4 linked regions of the Homo sapiens genome follow. The protein of the gene in region 1 interacts with the protein of each later gene in a pairwise test. Each region holds a gene or a part of one and is shown in the gene's direction. Other genes may lie near its edges. The genes, in order: FXR1, TBC1D22B, PRAM1 and ESCO2.

The links.
Region 2: the proteins of FXR1 (region 1) and TBC1D22B interact in binary tests that used the Homo sapiens proteins (3 or more experiments, as listed by UniProt).
Region 3: the proteins of FXR1 (region 1) and PRAM1 interact in binary tests that used the Homo sapiens proteins (3 or more experiments, as listed by UniProt).
Region 4: the proteins of FXR1 (region 1) and ESCO2 interact in binary tests that used the Homo sapiens proteins (3 or more experiments, as listed by UniProt).

What each region holds. Positions count from the first base shown.
Region 1 is NC_000003.12:180,943,636-180,950,687, forward strand, and holds part of FXR1 (RNA-binding protein FXR1), read left to right. Parts: intron 1-4,229; coding exon 4,230-4,301; intron 4,302-4,711; coding exon 4,712-4,860; intron 4,861-5,085; coding exon 5,086-5,179; intron 5,180-5,591; coding exon 5,592-5,708; intron 5,709-7,052. UniProt on the Homo sapiens protein: mRNA-binding protein that acts as a regulator of mRNAs translation and/or stability, and which is required for various processes, such as neurogenesis, muscle development and spermatogenesis.
Region 2 is NC_000006.12:37,330,772-37,333,470, forward strand, and holds the end of TBC1D22B (TBC1 domain family member 22B), read left to right. Parts: intron 1-272; coding exon 273-401; 3' UTR 402-2,199; downstream 2,200-2,699. UniProt on the Homo sapiens protein: May act as a GTPase-activating protein for Rab family protein(s).
Region 3 is NC_000019.10:8,492,620-8,499,671, reverse strand, and holds part of PRAM1 (PML-RARA-regulated adapter molecule 1), read left to right. Parts: coding exon 1-1,296; intron 1,297-1,382; coding exon 1,383-1,449; intron 1,450-1,831; coding exon 1,832-1,908; intron 1,909-7,052. UniProt on the Homo sapiens protein: May be involved in myeloid differentiation. May be involved in integrin signaling in neutrophils. Binds to PtdIns(4)P.
Region 4 is NC_000008.11:27,770,747-27,777,604, forward strand, and holds the start of ESCO2 (N-acetyltransferase ESCO2), read left to right. Parts: upstream 1-3,807; 5' UTR 3,808-3,861; intron 3,862-4,752; 5' UTR 4,753-4,768; coding exon 4,769-4,821; intron 4,822-5,615; coding exon 5,616-6,423; intron 6,424-6,858. Other genes in the region: CCDC25 (coiled-coil domain-containing protein 25), read right to left, coding at 1,767-1,794. UniProt on the Homo sapiens protein: Acetyltransferase required for the establishment of sister chromatid cohesion. Couples the processes of cohesion and DNA replication to ensure that only sister chromatids become paired together.

The sequences.
Region 1 (7,052 bases):
GGGTGAAGTTATGAAGCTTACAGAAGTGGATATTAAGTTTAAAATGGAGTTCAGCATTTCATCGTTCAGTGAGAAAAGCCTCCAGGCAGTTGAGATGGTTTATTTAGAAAGCCAGATTCATGAATGATTATGCTTTGGTGAAAATAGAATAAGGGGGTTAGGTAGTTTTAAGACATAACATTTTCAGCAAATGAGGCTTGATTTACCCACATTAACAAGAGATATTCGAACTGCCTCTCTGAGATAGTTACTCGAATGGGCACCTTCTTTTGGTTGTTAGGATATTCTTTTTTTTTTTGAGATGCAGTTTCGCTCTTGTTGCCTAGGCTGGAGGGCAATGGCGCGATCTCAGCTCACCGCAGCCTCCGCCTCCCAGGTTCAAGCAATTCTCCTACCTCAGCCTCCCGAGTAGCTGGGATTACAGGCATGCACCACCACGCCTGGCTAATTTTGTATTTTTAGTAGAGACAGGGTTTCTCCATGTTGAGGCTGGTCTCGAACTCCTGACCTCAGGTGATCCACCCACCTCGGCCTCCCAAAGTGCTGGGATTACAGGCGTGAGCCACCGCGCCCGGCCTAGAATATTCTTTTTGTAACCCTCAGTATACTTGGGAAAACAGTCATCACTGATCGTTTACCAAATAATTTTGTAGCAGAAAGAATGAAAGGGTAGTAAGGTCGTTATTGGACCTTTTTTTTTTTTGAGACAGGGTCTCGCTCTGTCACCCAGTTTAGAGTATAGTGGCATGATCATGGCTCACTGCAGCCTTGACCTCCCAGTCTCAAGTGATCCTCCTTCCTCAGCCTCCCAAGTAGCTGGGACTAGAGGCATGCACCAACCACACCTGGCTAATTAAAAAAAAATTTTTTTTATAGAGACGAAATCTTCCTGTGTTGTCCAGGTTGGTCTCAAACTCCTGGGCTCAAGCAGTCCTCCTGCCTCAGCCTCCAAAAGTGCTGGGATTACAGGCATGAGCCACTGTGCCCCCCATTATTAGACTTTTTTAAAGGCCATTATTGACTCCATGCTGGAGTATAGTGAAGCAAACACAACTCACTGCAGCCTTGACTTCCTGGGCTCAAGAGATCCTTCCACCCTACCCCAGGCCCCCAAGTAGCTGAGATTACAGGCACATGCCACCATGCCTGGCTAACTTTTGTATTTTGCATAGTGATGGTGTTTCACCATGTTGTCCAGGCTGGTCTCGAACTCTGGAGCCAAAGTGATCTGCCCACCTCAGCCTCCCAGAGTACTCGGATTACGGGCGTGAGCCCCACCACGCATGGCCTTATTAGACATTTTAGTGAGGGTTTAAACATAGCAAATCTAACTTTTTCATATTTTCCAGGTTTTGATGATATATGTATCTACAATGAATGCAGTTCTCTAAATGTAACTAACTGCTCACTGTTATACATGAACCTAGAACATACCAATCTTATAAATATTGATAGCAGATTTAAAATATATCTCTAATAAATTCTAGCTTATTCTGGTTATTCTTACAGTTGGATCATCAGAATGCAGTCCTTGAATACTTTGGAACTTTTAATGACATCTCATTCTATTGAAGAAGGGATAGCCATCTCTGTGCTGTAATTTTAGCACATTTAGTCAGTTGGATTGACTAATCTATTGAATATTTTTGCATTTCATTATCTTTCTTTTTCGAGTTACCTTTGTATACACATCTGCTTTTGACATTTCCACTTACGAAGTACATTTTGGCACACAAACATTTCTTAAAATTTTATCTTCAATTTTTATTTTACCTTTTTTTTCCCCCTGGACAGGGTCTCGTTCTGTCACCCAGGGTTGAGTGTAGTGGTACAATCTTGGCTCACTGCAGTCTCAACTTCCCAGGCTCCAGCAATCCTTCCACCCTAGCCTTCCATGTAGGTGGCACCACAGGTGCACGCTACGACACCTGGCTAATTTCTTTTGTATTTTTGATAGAGATGGGGTTTCATCATGTTGTCCAGGGTGGTCTTGAACTCCTGAGCTCTCAAGCAGTCGACCTGCTTTGGCTCCCCAAAGTTTTGGGATTATAGGTGTAAGCCACCGTGCCTGACCACAAACATCTTAAAAGATGGAAGAATACTGTCATATACCCTTTTAGCAAACCAGGATGATCTGGGTTCTTGTTGGAGGATTTTGCATGATGGAGTCTCAGTTGAGTCATTAACTGGATGAGAATACACATCATCTTTCCCTCTTCTCCTTAGAAATACATTGTTTGAGAACAATGTTTGAGAAATACATCGTTTGAGAAATACATCGTTTGAGAAATACATTGAGAACATTCATCTAAGATGTCACCATCTCAGACTTCATAGTCTGAGGTTTTGCTTTGTAAGATAATTTCACATTTATCAGTACTCTTTGCATCTGTTGTCTGATATCTCTAATAATTAGAAAGGCCTTCCTCTGTAAATTTTTCTTCTCTTCGCAATTATGAGTGAAAAAAATTCATAATTATCAACTGGTCAACGGTAGCTAAAAGCAGACTACAAGGATGGTGTCTTTGGTCTTTTTGAACTGTTTTGAAAGAGATGTGATACCTCAGGCTATGCAGTAAGGAAACTGTATGAACATTAACAGTTTATTTCACTGTTGTATCCTCTAGGTGATGCCATCATTCCTCTGTTCCATTTTAGTCTTTATTTAAAGCATAGCTGAGAATAACTGATGAATGTTGATGAAATTGTAAAGTGTTTCAAGATATAGGAAAAATAAGATCACTAGATTCTACCTTACATTTATAAAAGGGCCCAGTGGATACATATAATAATTACAGAATAAGGGTGAGTTCTGTTCTAGTCTTAGAGAAGTAAACTTTCTTGTTTTTTGGAATATGTCGTAAGGAAGAATATAAGTCATGAGATATTGATCCCTTTGAATAGTTAGATCTGTTTATAAAAGAAATGGAAAAGCTAAAATTGAGTTTAACGGACCCTGATTGGTATATTGGACTTCCTGCTTTTTCTCATAGCTTTTTTCTAATCATGGTATACGATAAAGTTCATTAGTAGGTTTTGGTTTATTCATTTCCAGTTCCAGTATTCCTACCACTTCCAAGATTACTCTCAAATCATCCTGATAGAAGCTTCAGGCTTTCTAAAAGTCTTTGTTTTTAGTTGTTTGTGTTTATCTCCCAGATGGCTGTTAACAGCCACTGATAGGTTTCCCTGATGATCTCTGCAAGGACAGTCAATCTTGGTTTTTATTGGTTTTTAGTTTCTTCTCAGCCCCCCTTTTCTACCTTTCTCTATACTGAAAATATAATACGTTAAAGAAGCTCTGCTGTGTCATAAGAAATAACTCTAATCCCAAGTGAAAGCTTCTGTGACCTATTACGTTAATAAAACTGATATTTATAGATATAAAGAATATGACTTGTTTTTTTGTGGATAGTTTTTATTTTGTTTTTTTTGAGATGGAGTTTTGCTCTAGGTGCCTAGGCTGGAGTGCAATGGTGTGATCTCTGCTCACTGCATCCTCCACCCTCTGGACATGATTCTCCTGCCTCAGCCCTCCGAGTAGATGAGATTACAGGCACCTGCCACCATGCCCGGCTAATTTTTATATTTTAGTAGAGACAGGGTTTACCGTGTTGGTCAGCCTTGTCTCGAACTCCTGACCTCAGGTTATCCACCCACCTTGGCCTCCCAAAGTGCTGGGATTACAGGTGTGAGCCACTGCGTCCGGCCTGGATAGGAATTTTGTAAGATACTTAATGTATTCTGCTAGATGGACTGAATGTGTGTAATTTTTTTGTTCAGTTAAACAATTTTAGTACATTTGATTTAGGTTCTTTAGCACGGGATCTAAATGTCATATCCTCGATGGAATTTAAAAATTACGTTAATCACTTTCTGAGAACAATTTTTAATATTAACAATGTTGACAGAAACAGGAAGACCTGTGTTTTACATTATTTAAAACTCCTTTGTAAGAGCATTTCTTTAAAATAATACTTATGTTTAGTAAACCTCATGAATATGGAATTAATTTCTAAGAAGCTAAATTGCCCAAAAAAGTAGTTTTATTTTTAAGTAGTAAATTTAAGTTACATATCACTTTCTTTAAATTGCATTTAATATGCCAATTTAAATAAAATAGCATTTTTCATTCTTAAGTTTATTGGGATTGGGTATTAATAAAAAGTCATTTACAGCATTGAAATCTTTTGGGATGAATGGATATAGGCATTTTTTTTTCTTCTCAGGTATATTCAAGAGCAAATGACCAAGAGCCATGTGGGTGGTGGTTGGCTAAAGTTCGGATGATGAAAGGAGAAGTAAGTACTCTTCACACTTGCTTTGTGACTAGTTTCTAAGGAAGTACCTCAGTGCTTGGTTTTTGTAAATCTTATTTCAACTGTTAGTTTTATTTCTAAAAGCCTACCTGAGAAATAGTTGATCAGACATTTCCATTAGCATTAATTTCTGTTTGTGTTCTGTATTGGCAAACACCAAAGCTGCTCTCCAGAGGTACACCTCAAGCATGTAAGGACCGCCAAGGTTCATGCTTGTAAGAACCTATAATCTAGTTTAGGCAAATCAGATTGATGTAGCTAAGCTGTGCTTAGTATTTTATGCCACATGGGGGAGGGTCCGTTGGTTAAGCTGAGCAAGGTAATTAGAACTTCATTTAAACTTCATTATTTTTGTTCAGATGGGATTTTTAAAGTATTTTGATGTCTTTTAGTTTTATGTCATTGAATATGCTGCTTGTGACGCTACTTACAATGAAATAGTCACATTTGAACGACTTCGGCCTGTCAATCAAAATAAAACTGTCAAAAAAAATACCTTCTTTAAATGCACAGTGGATGTTCCTGAGGATTTGAGAGAGGCGTGAGTAATTTTATATACTATTGAATTGTTCTGTGAATTAAGAAGATTTTTCAGTCCTACAAAACATTTTCCCTAATGCCCAATCAAACCTTCTGATGGAAAATCATCTTAATGAACAAAGGTTTTAGTGGGGCTTGTCAAAATGAAACACTGACTTTGTATTGTGACTCTCCTCTGACTTTAATCTGTTATTGAGTTCTTACACATAAATTGATTTCTCTCTAGGTGTGCTAATGAAAATGCACATAAAGATTTTAAGAAAGCAGTAGGAGCATGCAGAATTTTTTACCATCCAGAAACAACACAGCTAATGATACTGGTAAGATAGTACCATATTATAAGGTAGCTTATTAATGGATATTGCACAGATTTTATAATTACATATTTCAGAAGAGAAAAGCTAAGATCAACTTAGTGTATAGTGAATTTATTAATATAGTGTGGGAGAAAAATTTGTTTGCAGCTATAAAATGTTAATTACATTCTTAACATCATAAAATTCTTAATGTGTGAGATTCCGGATTTTTCCCCAATCAAACATATTCTGAATAGCAGATCTAAATAATACAGGAATTCAGAAAGGAAAGTGTGATTACTCAGAGTAGTGAGTGTTAGGTGAAAGAAGTGTAGTAGATGAGAAGCAAGGAAGGCTTTGCATAGAAGATGGGATGGTGTTTGTGCTATTTGGAAGAATGATTAAAGTTTTGAGTAATTAGCTTGTTTGTTTATAGTCTGCCAGTGAAGCAACTGTGAAGAGAGTAAACATCTTAAGTGACATGCATTTGCGAAGTATTCGTACGAAGTTGATGCTTATGTCCAGAAATGAAGAGGCCACTAAGCATTTAGAAGTAAGTGGGTTTACTTACAAAAGAGTTTTCTGTGTCCCATTTAGTTTTTGTTTGTTTTTTGGAGACAGATTCTGGCTCTGTTGCCCAGGCTAGAGTGCAGTGGCACAATCTTGGCTTACTGCAACCTCCACCTCCCGGATTCAAGCGGTTCTCCTGCCTCAGCCTCCGTGTAGCTGGGATTGCAGGTGTGCCCCACCAAGCCCAGCTAATTTTTGTATTTTAGTAGAGGTGGGGTTTTGCCATGTTGGCCAGGCTGGTCTCGAGCTCCTGGGCTCAAGTGATTGCCCGCCTCAGCCTCTCAAAGTGCTGGGATTACAGGCATGAGCCACCGAACCTGGCCCCCATTTAGTTTTATATTTTTCAAGTTCCTTGCTTCAAACGAAGGCAGCCCAGGACCTCTGTTTCGTGACTGTTTGGAGTTGTGTCCGTAGAACAATTGCTTTTCCATTTTACCTTTTATCAAACATAGCCTTTCCTTTGCGAAATGCCTGTTGACTTGTTGGTAGGACTTAGATGACAGGTGCCAAAGAGCTAAGAAACTAGGGATACTCAGTAGACTGTATTGCTAGTTCTTTACTTTGTATTTAACCTTTTTATTTTTTTAACTGCCTTGTCATCTGTCAGTCATGATATCTTTCATCAGTAACTAGTTCACTGTAACAACTCTTGTGTGAGAGGAGAGGAGGACTAGGAGTGAGGCATCATGTGGCATGTAGTATTAAAATATTAAGCTTATCATTATATCTCTGTCTTATCCTAAGGTACTCTGTTTTGTCCTGTTCTTCCCTGCTACACTAGTAGGATACTTGTTCTTCCCACTCACTCACACTTTCTAGATCTAGATGAACACATGTGCATGCACACACTGTGATGTCTCAGAGAAATTAAGATATGTTTATTATCCTTAGGACAAATTTGGAAATGTTCTCATTAATTTAAAAATTCTGAACAAGGGATATGTGAACAAATCTGCCTGTATCTGGAAAAGTGTTTTAGACTAATAAAATAGATGAATAAAACAGTTTCTTTTCCCCATTCATTTTATGACATTAGATGAGTTTCCTTTGTTTCTTAAGAAACTTGAGTTTTGGCCTTTTTAAAAAAATTTATGTGGGTTTTCGGTGGTTTTTTCTTCTTGGGTTTTTCTTTATACTGTGGTAAAGTACATATGAAACTTAGCATCTTAACCATTTTTAAGTGTACACTTAGTATTAAGTATGTTTACATTATTGATCAATCTTCAGTACATCTCATCTTGTAAAACTGCAAATCTATACCCTTTAGACAGCTGCTCATTTTCCCCTTTCCACAGCCCCTGACAACCATCATTCTATTTTCTGTTGC
Region 2 (2,699 bases), on another chromosome or scaffold:
ATCTTTATTGTTGTCATTCCCTATTTATGTTTTTTATGTTTTTAAAGAGACAGGTGTTAGTGGACTAGAGAATCAGCAGAGGCTTTCAAGACCTCCTGAGGTGAACTAGGACTGAAAGCTGTGTACTGTTTGGGAGGAAGGAGGCTGGACTCTTTGAGATGTGTGAGCCAGGAGGAAGGGGCCCCATTCTAGGCCTTGGTCTCTAAGAATGGGTTCACTTGTCTGATGGTCTACGGTCTGGTATGATATAAAAGTCCTTTCTTGCATTCCAGGGTCTCCTCATGCTGCTACAGAACCTACCTACAATACACTGGGGCAACGAAGAAATTGGGCTGCTTCTCGCCGAGGCATACAGACTCAAGTACATGTTTGCCGATGCCCCAAATCACTACCGCCGATAGGTGCTGTCTCCTCCGGGGACCCAGACTGCCTTCATCTCTGATGGCAGTCTGATCACTGTGGCCACTGTGCGAGCCGTGGACCCCGGCCAGGAACCACTCCTGTTGTACAAAGCTCACACCCACCGCCCAGGTCTTAACTTTCTGGCATCCACCACTCCATGTCTCTGGATGTGTCACTTGGACCACTGTCAGTATTCCATGCCGCGTGGATGGGCCCAGTTCTGGGAGAGGACAGAAAAGGTGGTACAGGGTTGTCTGCCCCTTTAAAAGAAACTGGACAAAGAAGGGGAAGGCTCAGGGTCTCACCTCACATTGTCCCTACAAGGACAGGCCCCAACTGATAACCGTTGCTTTTTTTTTTTTGTGAACATAGTTTGATTTGATCACAGGTCAAAAACGCCTTATATTTTCGAAAGACTCCTGGCCCCTCTTCCCTCTTCCTGGTTTCCTAGCCGTTCCCCTTCTGCCCCAGTCTGAGCCAGTGAGGGGTAGCTTTTTAAAACCATTATTCTAGATGGAGGAGGCACTGATGCTTGTAACTCTGGAAAGAGGCCTACACCCAAGGGCTAGGAATTTTATTTTTCCTTTTCTCACCAGGTGTCTGCATGTGTGTGTGGGTGTGAATGTGTATACATGCCCATCAGCATTTAGTCACATGTCTGAATTTCTGTGTCCAGACGAGCCCCATCAAACTAGTTGGGAAGGGCCCCAGTGACCAAGTGTATAAGCATCCCTTGAAGAGGGATTGGGGCAGGGGAGGCAGAAGGGGCTCTCCAGACCCCTTTTCCATGATGACCCACTCCAAGATATTATGTGTAAATTGTGTTATTATGTATATGGGTAAAGATGTACAAATATATGTCCTCTTTGTAGCAGATATGATTTTATATTTATAATGTGCATCAACATGTGAAAGCAATCTAGGTCACTAGCACAGAGGAAGTTGCCAGGAAGGTGGCTTCAGCACCTCCAGGTTGGTTCTGGGTGTCCTGCTGTGAGGGGTAGAACGGGAGGCTGCTGAAGTGAGTAGCTGAGCAGCTGGAGCCATCCCAAGCATCAGTGTCTCAGAGTCCTCCTCGCCCCTTTCTTCACCCCGCCCCCCAACCCCCAGACTTTCCTGGAGCATCTGCCCTTTGCTCCTAGCAGCCTCCCCAGGAAGGGACTGCAGAGGCGGGCAAGCCCTCTCTATGTGTTTTTATCCCCACCTTCCCCGGAATCTGGGGAGGGCTTTTGTTTTTACGTTTTCAAGTTCAGCATTGTATTCGGACAGAAGCTGTGACTGAAGACTCAGTGCCAAGGAAAGGGGCTTCTTGTGTGTCCCTCGGGTTTGGGGCTCTTCTCAGAGAGCAGCACTCCATATCCCTTACTGTCACCTTCACTCCCCACACAGCTCATGAGATGTGTGACCCCTGTTTGAGTTTTGGTATTTGGTAGTGGAGGGTGGGGGGATGGGGGCCAGCAGCTGTCATCCTCCTGGGAAGCCGAGCAGTGTCCCTGGTGGGTAACACCCTCAAGTCTCTTTGCCAGTGAGGCCCCACCACATCGGTGTGAGTTAGGTTTCTCATCTGGAGCTGTTTCTCAGGCATTCTTCCCAACCCTCTTCCTTTTCCCCTTCGGTGTGCCTCAGTGGTCTCCTTCATAGAGTGAGAGGGCTTGAGACCCTCCCTCAACCGGACTAATTAAAGAAAGACACTTGTGTTCCCAAGTGGTGGTTTTATTTTTTTAGTTTTTATGTTTGTATGGGAAATTGTGGATAAAGTGAAAAGAATTGTAAATAAATGGTGTATTTCCTCCTCCATCTGCTGGTTTTTCTCCTGTATGTGTCCATGGAACCTAAAGAGTCTCCTCTTTTTGAGTTTTTCTTGCTGATACTAGTAGGTGTGTGGTCAGGCCTTCTGTGAGGTGAGCAGGGCATCAGCAGAGGATCAACCAGCAAACACTTACCCGACATCCATCTATGAAAGGTACTGTGGAAACTACAAAAATGAGTAACTTGGTAAATGAAACTACTAAAAAGAGTTAACTTGCCAACCACTTTGAGAAGCACTTTACATGGATTATTTCATTCATCTAAAAGAAGTATGTTATCTGATAGAGGGTAGAAAACAGACTAGAATTTCAGTGCTGGATGAAAACTTGGAGATATCTAGTTTAACCCCCTCATTCGCAGAGGAAAATCCAAGCCAAGGCCAAGGAAGACAGCATCAGAGTCAGAACCAGAGACCCGGTGTCCTCCTGGCTTGCCTGTTCAGTGTGTTTCCACCAGAGTAGAAAGAACTAAGATGGCCGCCATGTAGG
Region 3 (7,052 bases), on another chromosome or scaffold:
AGTTCTCCCAGCCTGAGCTAAGCGAGCACCCCAAGAAGGCCCCGCTGCCTGAGTTTGGTGCAGTGTCCTTGAAGCCCCCGCCGCCTGAGGTCACTGACCTCCCCAAGAAGCCCCCGCCGCCTGAGGTCACTGACCTCCCCAAGAAGCCCCCGCCGCCTGAGGTCACTGACCTCCCCAAGAAGCCCCCGCCGCCTGAGGTCACTGACCTCCCCAAGAAGCCGTCCAAACTGGAGTTGAGTGACCTCTCCAAGAAGTTCCCACAGCTGGGGGCCACTCCGTTTCCAAGGAAGCCCCTGCAGCCTGAGGTCGGTGAGGCCCCTTTGAAGGCCTCGCTGCCGGAGCCTGGTGCGCCGGCCCGGAAACCCCTGCAGCCCGACGAACTCAGTCACCCCGCCAGACCCCCCTCCGAACCCAAATCCGGCGCATTCCCCAGGAAGCTCTGGCAACCCGAGGCCGGTGAGGCTACCCCGAGGTCCCCGCAGCCTGAGTTGAGTACCTTTCCCAAGAAGCCTGCGCAGCCTGAGTTCAACGTGTACCCCAAAAAGCCTCCGCAGCCTCAGGTCGGTGGCCTCCCTAAGAAGTCCGTGCCGCAGCCTGAGTTCAGCGAGGCCGCTCAGACTCCCCTCTGGAAGCCTCAGTCCAGCGAGCCGAAGCGCGACTCCAGCGCCTTTCCCAAAAAGGCCTCCCAGCCTCCGCTGAGTGACTTTCCCAAGAAGCCTCCGCAGCCTGAGCTTGGGGACCTCACCAGGACCTCCTCAGAGCCCGAAGTCAGCGTGCTTCCCAAGAGGCCGCGGCCGGCCGAATTCAAAGCGCTCTCCAAGAAGCCCCCGCAGCCCGAGCTGGGCGGCCTCCCCAGGACCTCCTCAGAGCCCGAGTTCAACTCACTCCCCAGGAAGCTGCTGCAGCCGGAGCGCCGGGGGCCACCCCGCAAGTTCTCACAGCCTGAGCCCAGCGCTGTCCTCAAGAGACACCCGCAGCCTGAGTTCTTCGGTGATCTCCCTCGAAAGCCTCCACTCCCCAGCTCCGCTTCCGAGAGCTCACTGCCTGCGGCCGTGGCCGGCTTCAGCTCCCGGCACCCGCTCAGCCCTGGGTTTGGAGCGGCTGGGACACCCCGCTGGAGGTCAGGAGGCCTGGTTCACAGTGGAGGGGCCAGGCCAGGCCTCAGACCCAGCCATCCACCCCGGCGGAGGCCTCTGCCCCCTGCCAGCAGCCTGGGACACCCTCCAGCCAAGCCCCCGCTGCCCCCGGGGCCCGTGGATATGCAGAGCTTTCGGAGACCCTCTGCAGCATCCATAGGTGGGTGAGGGCGGGCGGCACCGGCAGGAGCGGGGGCTGAGGTCCCAGGCAGTGCCGGCTTCCCTGCCCTACTCTCTACCCCACAGATCTACGGAGGACCCGCTCGGCCGCTGGGCTCCACTTCCAGGACCGACAGCCTGAAGACATCCCGCAGTGAGTGTGGGGAGGAAGCGGAGGTGGGTGCGGATTGTGGGGCTCAAAGAGGCCTCATCTCGGCCTGGAGCTCCCAGAACTTCGGGAGGCTGAAGTGGGCGGATCTCCTGAAGTCAGGAGTTCGACAACAGCCTGGCCAACGTGGTGAAACCCCGTCTACTAAAAATACAAAAATTAGCCCGGTGTGGTGGGGGGCACCTGTAATCCCAGCTACTTGGGAGGCTGAGGCAGGAGAATCGCTTGAACCCGGGAGGTGGAGGCTGCAGTGAGCCCGAGATCATGCCCCTGCACCACTCCAGCCTGGGCAACAGAGAAAAACTCCGTCTCAAAAAAAAAAAAAAAAAAAAAAAAAGAAGAGGCCTCATCTCAGGTATCCCCGCAGGGTCCCAGATGAGATCTACGAGCTGTATGACGATGTGGAACCCAGAGATGACTCCAGCCCCAGCCCCAAGGGCAGAGGTTTGTTGGTGGCCTGCCCGAGTCCCTGCAAAACATTCGGGGCAAGGCCATTTTCTGCCATGCTCCTGGTGTAAGAGCAAGTAACATTTTAGGACCTGCTGGCTCCTGCTGGGTGGAACTACATAAGGGGAGCCCAGAGGCGAAGGACCAGTGAGAAGGCTGTTGTAGGCAGAGGTGTGGCCCAGGTTGGCAGCAGGAGATGTGGGAGCAGTGGGTGAATTCAGTAATCAAAAGCAGGCATCAGGCCGGGTGCAGTGGCTCATGCCTGTAATCCCAGAGCTTTGGGAGCCCGAGGCAGGAGGATCGTTTGAGCCAATCCCAGGGCTTTGTGAGGCCAAGACAGGAGGATCCCGTAAGCCCAAGATTCCAGACCAGTCTGGGCCACAGAGCGAGACCTCATCTCTACAAAAAAACTTAAAAATCAGCCAGGTGTGACAAGCATCTGTAGTCCCAGCTATTTGGGATGCTGAGACAAGAGGATTGCTTGAGTCCAGGAGGTCGAGACTGCAGACTGCAGTGAGGCTGTGACTCCACCACTGTACTCCAGCCTGGGCAGCAAACACCCTGTCTCAAAAAAAAAAAAAAAAAAAGCAGGATTTGGTGGTATATAAAGCAGGGAAGTTTCAAGCCTAGCACCCAAGGGCATGACAGAGCCGCCCCTGGGTTGACGACAAGATGTTAGGTTCCATTCATTCATCCATCCATCCATCCATCCATTCATTTATTTATTTATTTTTTGAGATGGAGTCTCGCTCTGTCACCCAGGCTGTAGTGCAGTGGAGCAATCTCAGCTCACTGCAAGCTCCGCCTCCCGGGTTCATGCCATTCTCCTGCCTCAGCCTCCCCAGTAGCTGGGACTACAGGCACCCACCACCGCGCCCAGCTAATTTTTTTGTATTTTTAGTAGAGATGGGGTTTCACCGTGGTCTCGATCTCCTGACCTCGTGATCCACCTGCCTTGGCCTCCCAAAGTGCTGGGATTACAGGCGTGAGCCACCACGCCTGACCCTTATTTATTTATGTATTCGTTTTTTTGTTTGAGATGGAGGCTCGCTCTGTTGCCCAGACTGGAGTGCAGTGCCGTGATCTTGGCTAACTGCAACCTCTGCCTTCCGTGTTCAAGCGATTCTCCTGTCCCACCCTCTGGAGTAGCTGGGATTACAGGCACGTGCCACCAAGCCCAGCTACTTTTTGTATTTTTAGTAGATATGGGGTTTCACCATGTTGGCTAGGCTGGTCTCAAGCTCCTGACCTCAAACGATCCACCCACCTTAGCCTCCACAAGTGCTGGGATTACAGTCATGAGCCACCGCGCCCGGCCTTATATTTTTATTTTTTATTTTTTTGGAGACACAGTCTCGCTCTGTTATCGCCCAGGCTGGAGTGTAGTGGTGCCATCTCAGCTCACTGCAACCTCTGCCTCTTGGATTCAAGCGATTCTCCTGCCTCAGCCTCCCAAGTAGCTGGGATTACAGGCGCCCACCACCATGCCTAGTTAATTTTTGTATTTTTAGTAGAGCTGGGGTTTCACTACATTGGCCAGGCTGGCCTTGAACTCCTGACCTCGTGATCCGCCCACCTCAGCCTACCAAAGTGCTGAGATTTCAGGCGTGAGCCACCACGCCCAGCCTGATTTACTTAGACCTGTTGTGTTCAAGGTAGCTGAGGGGATGTCCAGGCAGAACTTGGGCCTGAAACTCAGGGGGAGGTGTGGCCTGCAGGCAGGTGTGGCAGTGGCAGGGGAGGGAGGCTGCCAAAGGTTTCTTAGAAGTTTGTGCTGGGTGAATAGGGAGCAGGCCCGCACCTCCTGCCCAGCTCCACAGTTAATGCCTTCATGAAAACACAAGCAGCTTCCAGGCAAGCACCTTGCCTGCCTGTCCCTAAATCTGTACCCTCCACTCCCTGCATGTCCCTAAATCTGTCCTTAAATCCGTACCCTCCACTCCAAAGTTAATGCCTTCATGAAAACACAAGCAGCTTCCAGGGAAGCACCTTGCCTGCCTGTCCCTAAATCTGTACGCTCCACTCCCTGCATGTCCCTAAATCTGTCCTTAAATCCGTCCTTAAATCCGTACCCTCCACTCCAAAGTTAATGCCTTCATGAAAACACAAGCAGCTTCCAGGCAAGCACCTTGCCTGCCTGTCCCTAAATCCGTACCCTCCACTCCCAAATCCCCACAGGGCAGTAAGGCAATGCACCCCCATTTTACAGATGCACAAGGCTGGCCCGGCGTGGCAGCTCACACCTGTCATCCCAGCAGTTTGGGAGGTCCGGTGGGCGGATCACTTGAGGTCAGGAGTTCCAGACCAGCCTGGCCCGCATGGCAAAAACCCATCTCTACTAAAAATAAAAAAACTAGCTGGGGCCGGGCGTGGTGGCTCACGCCTGTAATCCCAGCACTTTGGGAGGCCGAGGCGGGTGGATCACCTGAGGTCAGGAGTTCGAGACCAGCCTGAACAACATGGAGAAACCCCATCTCTACTAAAAATACAAAAATTCGCCAGGTGTGGTGGTGCGTGCCTGTAGTCCCAGCTACTAGAGAAGCTGAGGCAGGAGAATCGCGTGAACCTGGGAAGGAAGGGTTGCAGTGAGCCAAGATCACGCCATTGGACTCCAGCTTGGGCGACAGAGTGAGACTCAATCTCAAAAAAAAAAATGAGTCGGGCATGGTGGCATGCACCTGTCATCCCAGCTATTCGGAAGGCTGAGGTGGGAGAATTCCTTGAACCCGGGAGGTGGAGGTTGCAGTGAGCTGACATCGCGCCGCTGCACTCCAGCCTGGGTGACAGAGTGAGACTCTGTGTCTGTCTCAGTTGAAAAAAAAAAAAAAGGCCAGGCGCAGTGGCTCACGCCTGTAATCCCAGCACTTTGGGAGGCCAAGGCGGGTGGATTGCCTGATGTCAAGAGTTCAAGACCAGCCTGGCCAACATAGTGAAAACCTGTCTCTACTAAAAATACAAAAAATTAGCTGGGTGTGGTAGCAGGCGCCTGTAATCCCAGCTACTTGGGAGGCTGAGGCAGGAGAATCGCTTGAACCTGGGAGGCAGGGGTTGCAGTAAGCTGAGATCCTGCCATTGCACTCCAGCCTGGGTGACAGAGTGAGACTCCATCTCAAAAAAAAAAAAAGAAAAAAAAATAGGTACGCAAGGTTGAGGCTCTGGGATGGGGCTTGCCCTGGCTTGCACAGCTGGTCCACGAGCTGGATCTGTGGCAGGGCTTTCAGCGGGGGCCAGAGCTTGAGCTTCTAAGGTGCTCCTGCTCTCGCTGACAGCCTCAGAGGGCCTGGGGCAGAGAGGCCCCCTCTGCTTCTCCTGGGCTTTCTCCCTGAGCTTCTTGCAACACCTCCCTGTGAGCACACAGCTTCCTGGTGGGGCCCCTTCTGCTTCCGCTCTAGGGGAGGCTCTGTGGCTTGGGTCTGGGGGCCACCGTTGGGGATGCGGATGGCCAGGAGTGGGGCTGCTGAGCGCCTGGGCTAGTGACAGCCTGCCTCCAACCACTCCCAGAAGCCCTGCTGGAATCCCCCACCTCTTCCGAGGCTAGGAGCATCTGCCTCTCCTCAAACTTCATACAGTCCCCACCCTTGGCCCATTGTTCCTGTCACCAAATAACCTTCTCCCCCTTCCTTGCCAGTCATTTGAGGTTCTGATAGGAAAAAAGAAAAAAGGGGCCGGGCGCGGTGGCTCATGCCTAAAATCCCAGTTCTTTGGGAGGTGGAGGCAGGCGGATCAGTTGAGGTTGGGAGTTCGAGACCAGCCTGGCCAACATGGTGAAACCCCGTCTCTACTAAAAATACAAAAATTAGTTGGACATGGTGTTGCACACCTGTAGTCCCAGCTTCTGGGGAGGCTGAGGTGGGAGGATCGCTTGAATCCAGGAGATGGAGGCTGCAATGAGCCGAGATTGCACCTCTGCACTCCAGCCTGGGCAACAGAACGAGACCCTGTCTCAAGAAAAAAAGAAAAAAAAAAAGGTCCCACTTCCCTGGATCTCCCGCTTCTCAGGAGTGGCGTGGGCTTCTCACTGTGGGTGCAGCTTCTCAAAGGCAGCTTAGGTCTCTTGGGGCCAGGACTCTGGACTCCCCTTTCCCACTGTCTGCCTTACTTGGAGCAGTGGCAGCTCCACTGCAGAGGTTCCTGGAAGGCAGGGGGCTCCTCTGCAGGTGGGGAGAGCCCAGCCTTTCCCAGGGATCTGAGCTGGCCATGCGGGGAAGGCGGGCAGAGGCCTGCTCTGGGTCAGCTGTGGATGAACCAGGGCTGCCTGCATGGCGGTGCCAAGAGGTGCTCTAATGTGGCGGGTTTGCAGGGACCCTGGAGTGCCAAGGTCAGGTTCGCTCCTGGTGGAGTGACTGCTCACGGCCAGGGAAGCCTCTGAGAGGCAGGAGCAGCTGGAGGGGCTGTGTGTTCCAGGTGAGACTGTGGATGGCCATGCCTGGTATCTGGCGGGCACGATTCAGGTGCTGCTCCTTGGGCTGCTTGGAGGGACTACAGGCCTGAAATGTCCGGCGGGATACTTTGAGCCATTCGGAAAGGACATGCTGGGGCTCTGGGTTCTGGATCTTTCACTCACCAGGGTTCCTGGGGCTCCCACCTGAAGCCAATTCCTTGGCCAGCAGGGCTCTGACTTGGGAGCCTGGTCATTTGCCAGGAAGTGGCACAGGGAGACTGGCACCATGGGAGACCCCTCAGTCCAGAGTCTCATCATCAGTCACCAGTCCAGGACGCTTACCCTAGCAGCATCTTTTAAAAATTATTTTTATTTACTATTTTGAGACAGGGTCCTGGTCTGTCGCCCAGGCTGGAGTGCAGCGGCGCCATCTTGACTCACTGCAACCTCCAGCTCCCAGGTTCCGGCGATTCTCCTGCCTCAGCCTCCTGAGTAGCTGGCATTATGGGCGCCCACCACCACACCCGTCTAATTTTTGTATTTTTAGTAGAGACAGGGTTTCACCATGTTGGCCAGGCTGCTGTCAAACTCCTGACCTCAAGTGATCTGCCCGACTTGGCCTCCCAAAGTGCTGGGATGACAGGCATGAGCCACCATGCCTGGCCATGATATTTTACTGTCAACTATCATTGCCCTCCTGTGCAATGGAACACCCAATTTCTTCTTCCTAACTGTAACTTTGTACCCATGGGCCAGCCTC
Region 4 (6,858 bases), on another chromosome or scaffold:
AAAAAAAACAAAAACAAAAACAAAAAACTCACCTTTAACAAGCATATAGAGTAGCAATAGAATAGAAAGTGCTATAAGTAAGTAAAAAAATGGCATTCATTTATTCAACAAGCATTTATTGAGAACTACTAACCAGTCACTACGTTAGGGAAACAAGTACAGTAGTCCCCCCTTATCTGTGGGGGATGTCTTCCAAGATCTCCAGCAGATGCCTGAAACCGAGGACAACACTGAATTCCATATATAAAGGGACTTGCCACATAATGATGCTTTGGTCAGCAACAAACCACACATACTATGGTGGTCCCATAACATTATAACGAAGCTGAAAAATTCTGATCACTATTGCCTGATGACCTGGTAGCCATCATAACAGCGTGGTGCAACTCACTTTTTCTACGTTGAGACCCGTTTAAATACACAAACACCATTGCGTTACCATTGCCTACAGCCATTCAGTACAGCAACGTGCTGTACAAGTTTGTACCCTAGGAGCAACGGTATACTGTACAGCCTACATTTGTGGTAGGCTATACCACAGGTTTAAGTATACTCTACCGTGTTGCTACAACAATGAAACCGCCTAATGGAGCATTTCTCAGAATGTATTCTTGTCATTAAGGGACGCATGGCTACTGGTATTCCCTATATATGTATACCTATGATAAAGTTAATGTATCAGTTCGGTGGAGTAAGAGATTATTGACAATAACTAATAATAAAATAGAACGATTATAACAACGTACTGTAATAAAAGTTAGGTGACTCTGCTCTCTCTCTCTCTCAAAACCTTATTGTACTGTACTCACTCCTTTTCTTCTTGTGATGATGTGACCACGGAAAGCGAAATACAGGACAAGTAGGGACTACTGTAAAGAGATCCTGTCCACGCCCTCAAGGGACTTACACTCTAGCTCAAGCAGACACCATTTAATACCACGTGATAAGTGCAATGCCAAAGGCATACTTGGAACGTTAAGTGGGTCCCAGGAAAGGAATAGCTAAGCAATCTTGGGGTAGGAGCTAGCATCAGGAAAGGCATCTTGGAAAAGATGGGCCAAAACTGTCTTAAGGGAATTAGCTGGGGGTTGATTTTAGGAAAGGGGAATAACAGGAACAGAACGAAACCAAGTCGGGACACTGCATTTCCTGGGAACGAAGGGCACCCTTTCCTTATCTGTCAAAGATAAGTCAGAAGCATTACCATAGGTCACTTCTGAGATCTGGGACATCAACTGCCCGGAGAGTGGCTGGGTGGACATCCCAGGGTCTTTTTATTGTTTTCTGTTGCATCCCAGACCCTACAACCCCTTCCTGAAAGGGTAAGTCGCGCTTCCCTTAAGAAAAAGTTGTTAGCAGGTGTCTCCTTTCTCACAGGGGATAATTACAAGGGTTCAGCCAGAACAAAGGCCGCAGATGGAAGGTGGGAAGAAGACTTGGGATAAGGTGTGTGGAGGAGCCCACAGGCTCTGCCCAATCCCAGGGAGTGACGGGACGTCTTTCCGATTAGGGGACGAGAACTCCCCGATACAAACATAGCAGTGGCATCGCCCCTCCGCGCCCCCCACGCCATGACGAGGGGACGCCGGGGGAAATCCTGCAGCCGTGGGAGGGACGGATGTGCTGGGGGACCGAGAGGCCGCGGGAAGAGGCACTCGCATCCAGAAGGCATTTTAGAGCGAGGGTCAGGCGCAGCGGCGGACTGCGGGTCCCGGCTTCGGAGCCCGCTGTCCAGCAGGGTCCAGGAGGACGTGGCGCCCACTCACCGCTGCTGCTGGTGAAGTAGAACACCATGATCCCGGGAGCGGTGCGGTGACTCCACCGCGGAGCAGCAGCGCTCAACTCACGAAGCTCAGGATACCAGACTCGCGGCGGCCGCCTGGCCCCCGGAACTCCTCCGTGCACTTCCGGCGGACGTCGGGGCGCGTCATAACGCCGGCCGTGGGCGCCATTTTTAATCCTGGCGAGGCGAAGTGTAGTGGCAAGGAGTTTGGTTCAGTGATTTGTGGGTTAAGGGAAAGAGGCTGGGCATCTTGGGCACGTTAGTTAACCTGTCTGTGCTTCACTTTCCTCAGCAGCGAAATGAAGATGATACTAGAGCAGCTAACTCACAGGATATTTTTTAGGGTTAAATAAGTTAATGGGCGCCAAGGGTTTAGAACATAGCACACAAACGAGTTGTTTCTGATACTCACCAGGACAATATGCCTCTTGGGGATTGGACTTTGTTCTGGCTTAAATCGAAGGCCTGCCATCCCAAACCTCTGAACCTCAGAGGTCCTCCTGCTATAAAGTAGGAATAATCATATTCATGTAAAGCTCCTACAGCACTTGGCTTTGCCCTGATTATTTCTCTTGAGAAAGCACTTTTATCTGAGGAATGTGAGTCCCTTTAAATTACTAGGTCTGGAGAGGCATTAAGATAAGACCCCATCATGTTCTACCACCCCCTTGAGCTATGTATTCATCTACTGAAACTACCTGCTTCTGCCACAGGTAGCTACCTACTAACCTAACACTGCCACACAAGACACTATGACATGACCCACACCCTATAGTTTAACAATGTCTAGCCAATCACTGATGCTTGTAGTTTCTATACATCAATGAGAATGCTTGACAGTTGTGTATCAGCCCACTTCCTGCCCCCCTTCTTCGTCTTTAAAAACCTGCTTGTAGCAAAGGCCAGACAGAGCTCATATCCAAGCCTGCTGGTGGAGGGCGGTGGGGGGAGGGGGGTTGGAATCTTCTGGGCAGCTGTCCCCGCTTTAACTCAAGCAAACTCTACATTCTTTTTTTTTTTGCCTCAGCCTTTTCCTTTTAAACTGACACTCTTACATCACTGTCACTGACTTCATTCTATGAAATTGAGGGCGTCACTTAACGAAATTTATTTACATGCTTGCTTTGACAGCATGTATACTAAAATTGGAATGATACAGAGAACTTTAACATGGCCCCTGCTCAAGGATGACATACAAATTTGTGAAAATTAAATTTGAAAAAATAAACATAAAACTCTAAACTTATTTGAAACTAAAAATGTGCCAGAAACACTGTACCAGGAGCTGGTGACACAAAGATAGTAACAATAGCTAACAATAACCGTTTTAGGAACTTTCTGGTTTTCCAAAGTAAGAATTTAGCTCTGTTCTGTAAATAGCAATTGTTTTGGGTTCTCCGTTGTATTATTTGTAAAATGGGAATGGCAATAGATATTAATGCCTTACAGATTGTGGTAAGAAGTAAATGAAACAAAACATGTAAAGCATCTAAGAATGCCTGGCACATAGCAGGTGTTAAGTTTTATATTTTAATTTGAAAAATAAATAGAAACCTAAAGTTACTAATAAAAAAAGTGAAACTGACAATGAAGCTTCAAATGTGAAAAATAAGTGCATCGAGAATCTTGGAGAGGCCTTTATTTATTTATTTATTTATTTATTTTTGAGACGGAGTCTTGCTCTGTCGCCAGGCTGGAGAGGCCATTTTACAAAAATTTCTTACCCCGTGACCCCAGAATGTATCTCAACTTCAACTGGACCGAGAACTACAATTCCCAGAATGCACCTAAACAAGGCCCCGGGAACGGAGTCCGGCGTTGCTGCAGGGGATTGTGGGTGGCGTGGTTTCCCTCAGAGATTTTTCACCTCACCAGGGCGCGAGAATCTTGGAAACAGCCACCAGGGTGGGCGGGGCAAGGGCTGGTGCTCCACCAATCACCGAGCCAGCCCCTGGAAGCGCTGAGCCGTGGCCAATCGGAACGCAGCGGCTTCCTCCTAGCCTGGCGCGCGATTATTTGAAGACGCTCACGGAGCGGCTGGCTAGGCTGAGGAGAGCTCGCCGGGCTCTGAGGCGCAGGTAACCTCTGGAGTAGGCCGAGGCGGGGGGCTGTGGAAGGCTGAGGCGAGCGGGAGACCCTGTGGAACGTGGGGGCGAATGTCACGGGGAAAGAGCTTTTGCTCGGCGCTCGGCAGGTCCGCAGGCCCGAGACCGAAGAAGCCACTGACTCGTTCTCCGCGCTCACAGGCGCCGGGTTTCCCTCTTCCCGACGCCGGCGTTTCCTTGTTTTGGGTTTAGGGTTTGTTTGTTTGTTTGTTTCCCTGACCGGGTTCAGGGTCGGGACGCTTTCCTCTCCTACCTTTCCTCGCTTAGCCCCAGAGGGGTCCCCCCTTAAGCCGCAGCTCGACCTGAATTCCCAGAGACCCTGGCCTTTCAGTTTGTTCATTCATTAATAGCTTTGAAATAACGCTTGTGTGCTGCTTTGGGGGGAATTTCCCTGATCCCAGGGAAGGGGAAGGAAATGAATTCTGACGAGCCACGTAGCCGCCTGCTCGTGCATTCTAGCATTTGTTTTCAGCAGCCTTACGACTTCAAGAGATTTTTATAAAAAGGGAAGCAAACGGCTTGCTCCGGGCTCATCAGCTAGGAAAATGGCAGAGGACTGTGCTTCACCCGTTTTCTTGCTGGGCTCTGATGAAAAGTTACAGACGGTCTCTGCCTTCATTGAAGGCTGTTGAGATGGGGAAACAAGAAAATGTCTTAAATGGACTATTAGGGAAATACAGGGTGCCATGGAAGCAGAACAAGCGCGTGTAACCCTTGGAGGGGTGGAAGGAGAGCAATGTCGAGGAAGACCTCCCAGAAAATAGGGTTTTAACTTGGTGTGAAATAGACTAATTAAAGGGGGTATAATTTTGATAAAGCGATTTTTAATATTTTGATGAATGTGGTTATTGTCATTTCTTTTAGGAATTCAATAAAGAAAATGGCAGCTCTTACTCCAAGGAAGAGGAAGCAGGATTCTTTGAAGTGTGACAGGTGAATCTCAGCCTGTGAATAGAAACTCTTAGAAAAATCCACCTTCTTGTCTCTCTTGTTCTCTCCTATTTTCTAAAATTTTCGTTCTTCCACTAGCCTACTCCTTGTGGCTACAGTGATAACCTGATAACCTATATTCTAATTCTAGCTTGGAAATACATTAAGTTTTCATAATGAATTATTTAGTCCTTTTCAAGGGAATCAAAGCTGTTTTTTAGTTTTTGTTTTTTTCTTTTGACATAGAAGCAGCACATTGAAGAAAGCTGTTTTCTATAGCTAGGAAATATACCAAATCAGCTATTACCTTTTTCCTTTCTGTTCCCCTATAATATTTTACAGTGTTTTGCATACAGTAGATGCTTGTCTGGAAACAATTCTAGAAAGACTGTGTACTCAGATATTAATTACTCTACCCAGGAAAAGCCCCAGGGGGTCAGTTCATTACAGACAGTTATTATAGGGGGCTTGTAAACAATAGAGCAAAATATATGAGCTATAATTTATATATGGCCAACACATAGAAATCGATTTTAAAACATACATGCATATATGTCTATCATAGCTTCTTTGTATATAGTATTTGTTTTCATGAACTCTTTGGGAAGATATTTGAATGTTTTATTTGATAAAGACAGAATTTGAGAATCCTACTGTTAAACTAATAGAAAATTGTGTGTATGGGGGGTACATGTATTGTTTTTAATATGACCTACAAGTAGAGCTTACTTAGCAGTAGATTTATGTAAATTTTGACGCAAAATAATCTTATCAATGGACTTTGTTTCTTTTTATAGCCTTTTACACTTCACTGAAAATCTGTTTCCATCACCTAATAAAAAGCACTGTTTTTATCAAAACAGTGATAAAAATGAAGAAAACCTGCATTGCTCTCAACAAGAGCATTTTGTTTTAAGTGCGCTCAAAACAACTGAAATAAATAGACTGCCATCAGCAAATCAAGGCTCACCATTTAAATCTGCGCTCTCCACTGTATCTTTTTACAACCAAAATAAGTGGTACCTCAATCCACTGGAGAGAAAGCTGATAAAAGAGAGTAGATCTACTTGTCTAAAAACTAATGATGAAGATAAATCTTTTCCCATTGTGACAGAAAAAATGCAAGGAAAACCAGTCTGCTCCAAGAAGAACAACAAAAAACCACAGAAGAGTTTAACTGCTAAGTATCAACCAAAGTATAGACACATCAAGCCTGTATCAAGGAATTCTAGAAATTCCAAGCAAAATCGAGTGATCTATAAGCCAATTGTGGAGAAGGAAAATAATTGTCATTCAGCTGAAAATAATTCCAATGCTCCTCGGGTTCTGAGCCAAAAAATAAAACCACAAGTTACACTCCAGGGTGGAGCAGCATTTTTTGTTAGAAAAAAATCTTCTCTTAGAAAATCGTCCCTGGAAAATGAGCCGTCACTGGGACGCACCCAAAAGAGTAAATCAGAAGTCATTGAAGATTCTGATGTAGAGACTGTCAGTGAAAAAAAAACTTTTGCGACAAGGCAAGTGCCAAAGTGCTTGGTCCTAGAAGAGAAATTGAAAATTGGACTACTGAGTGCAAGCAGTAAAAATAAAGAGAAATTAATAAAGGTAAAGCTAAATATATCACTTTAAAAATGGCTGTATAACAAAACTTCAGTATAAATGACATAGTTGAATAAAATTTTATTTTCTGGACTGCTTTTATAAAGCCAGATAGCATAGTGTTTAGTTACTGTAAGGAGTTTATTTATTTATTTATTTTAAGACAGGGTCTTTCTTTATGACCCAGGCTGTAGTGCAGTGGCACACTGCTCACTACAGCCTCAACCTCCTAGGCTCAAGCAATCCCACCTCAGCCTCCCAAGTAGCTGGTACTATAGATGCACACCACCTCACCCGGCTAATTCTTGCATTTTTTGTAGAGGCTGGGGTTTCACCATGTTGCCCAGGCTGGTCTCGCACTGCTGGGCTATAGTGATCCACCTGCCTCACCCTCCCAAATTGCTGGGATTATGGGTGTGAACCACTGCACCTGGCCCAGCC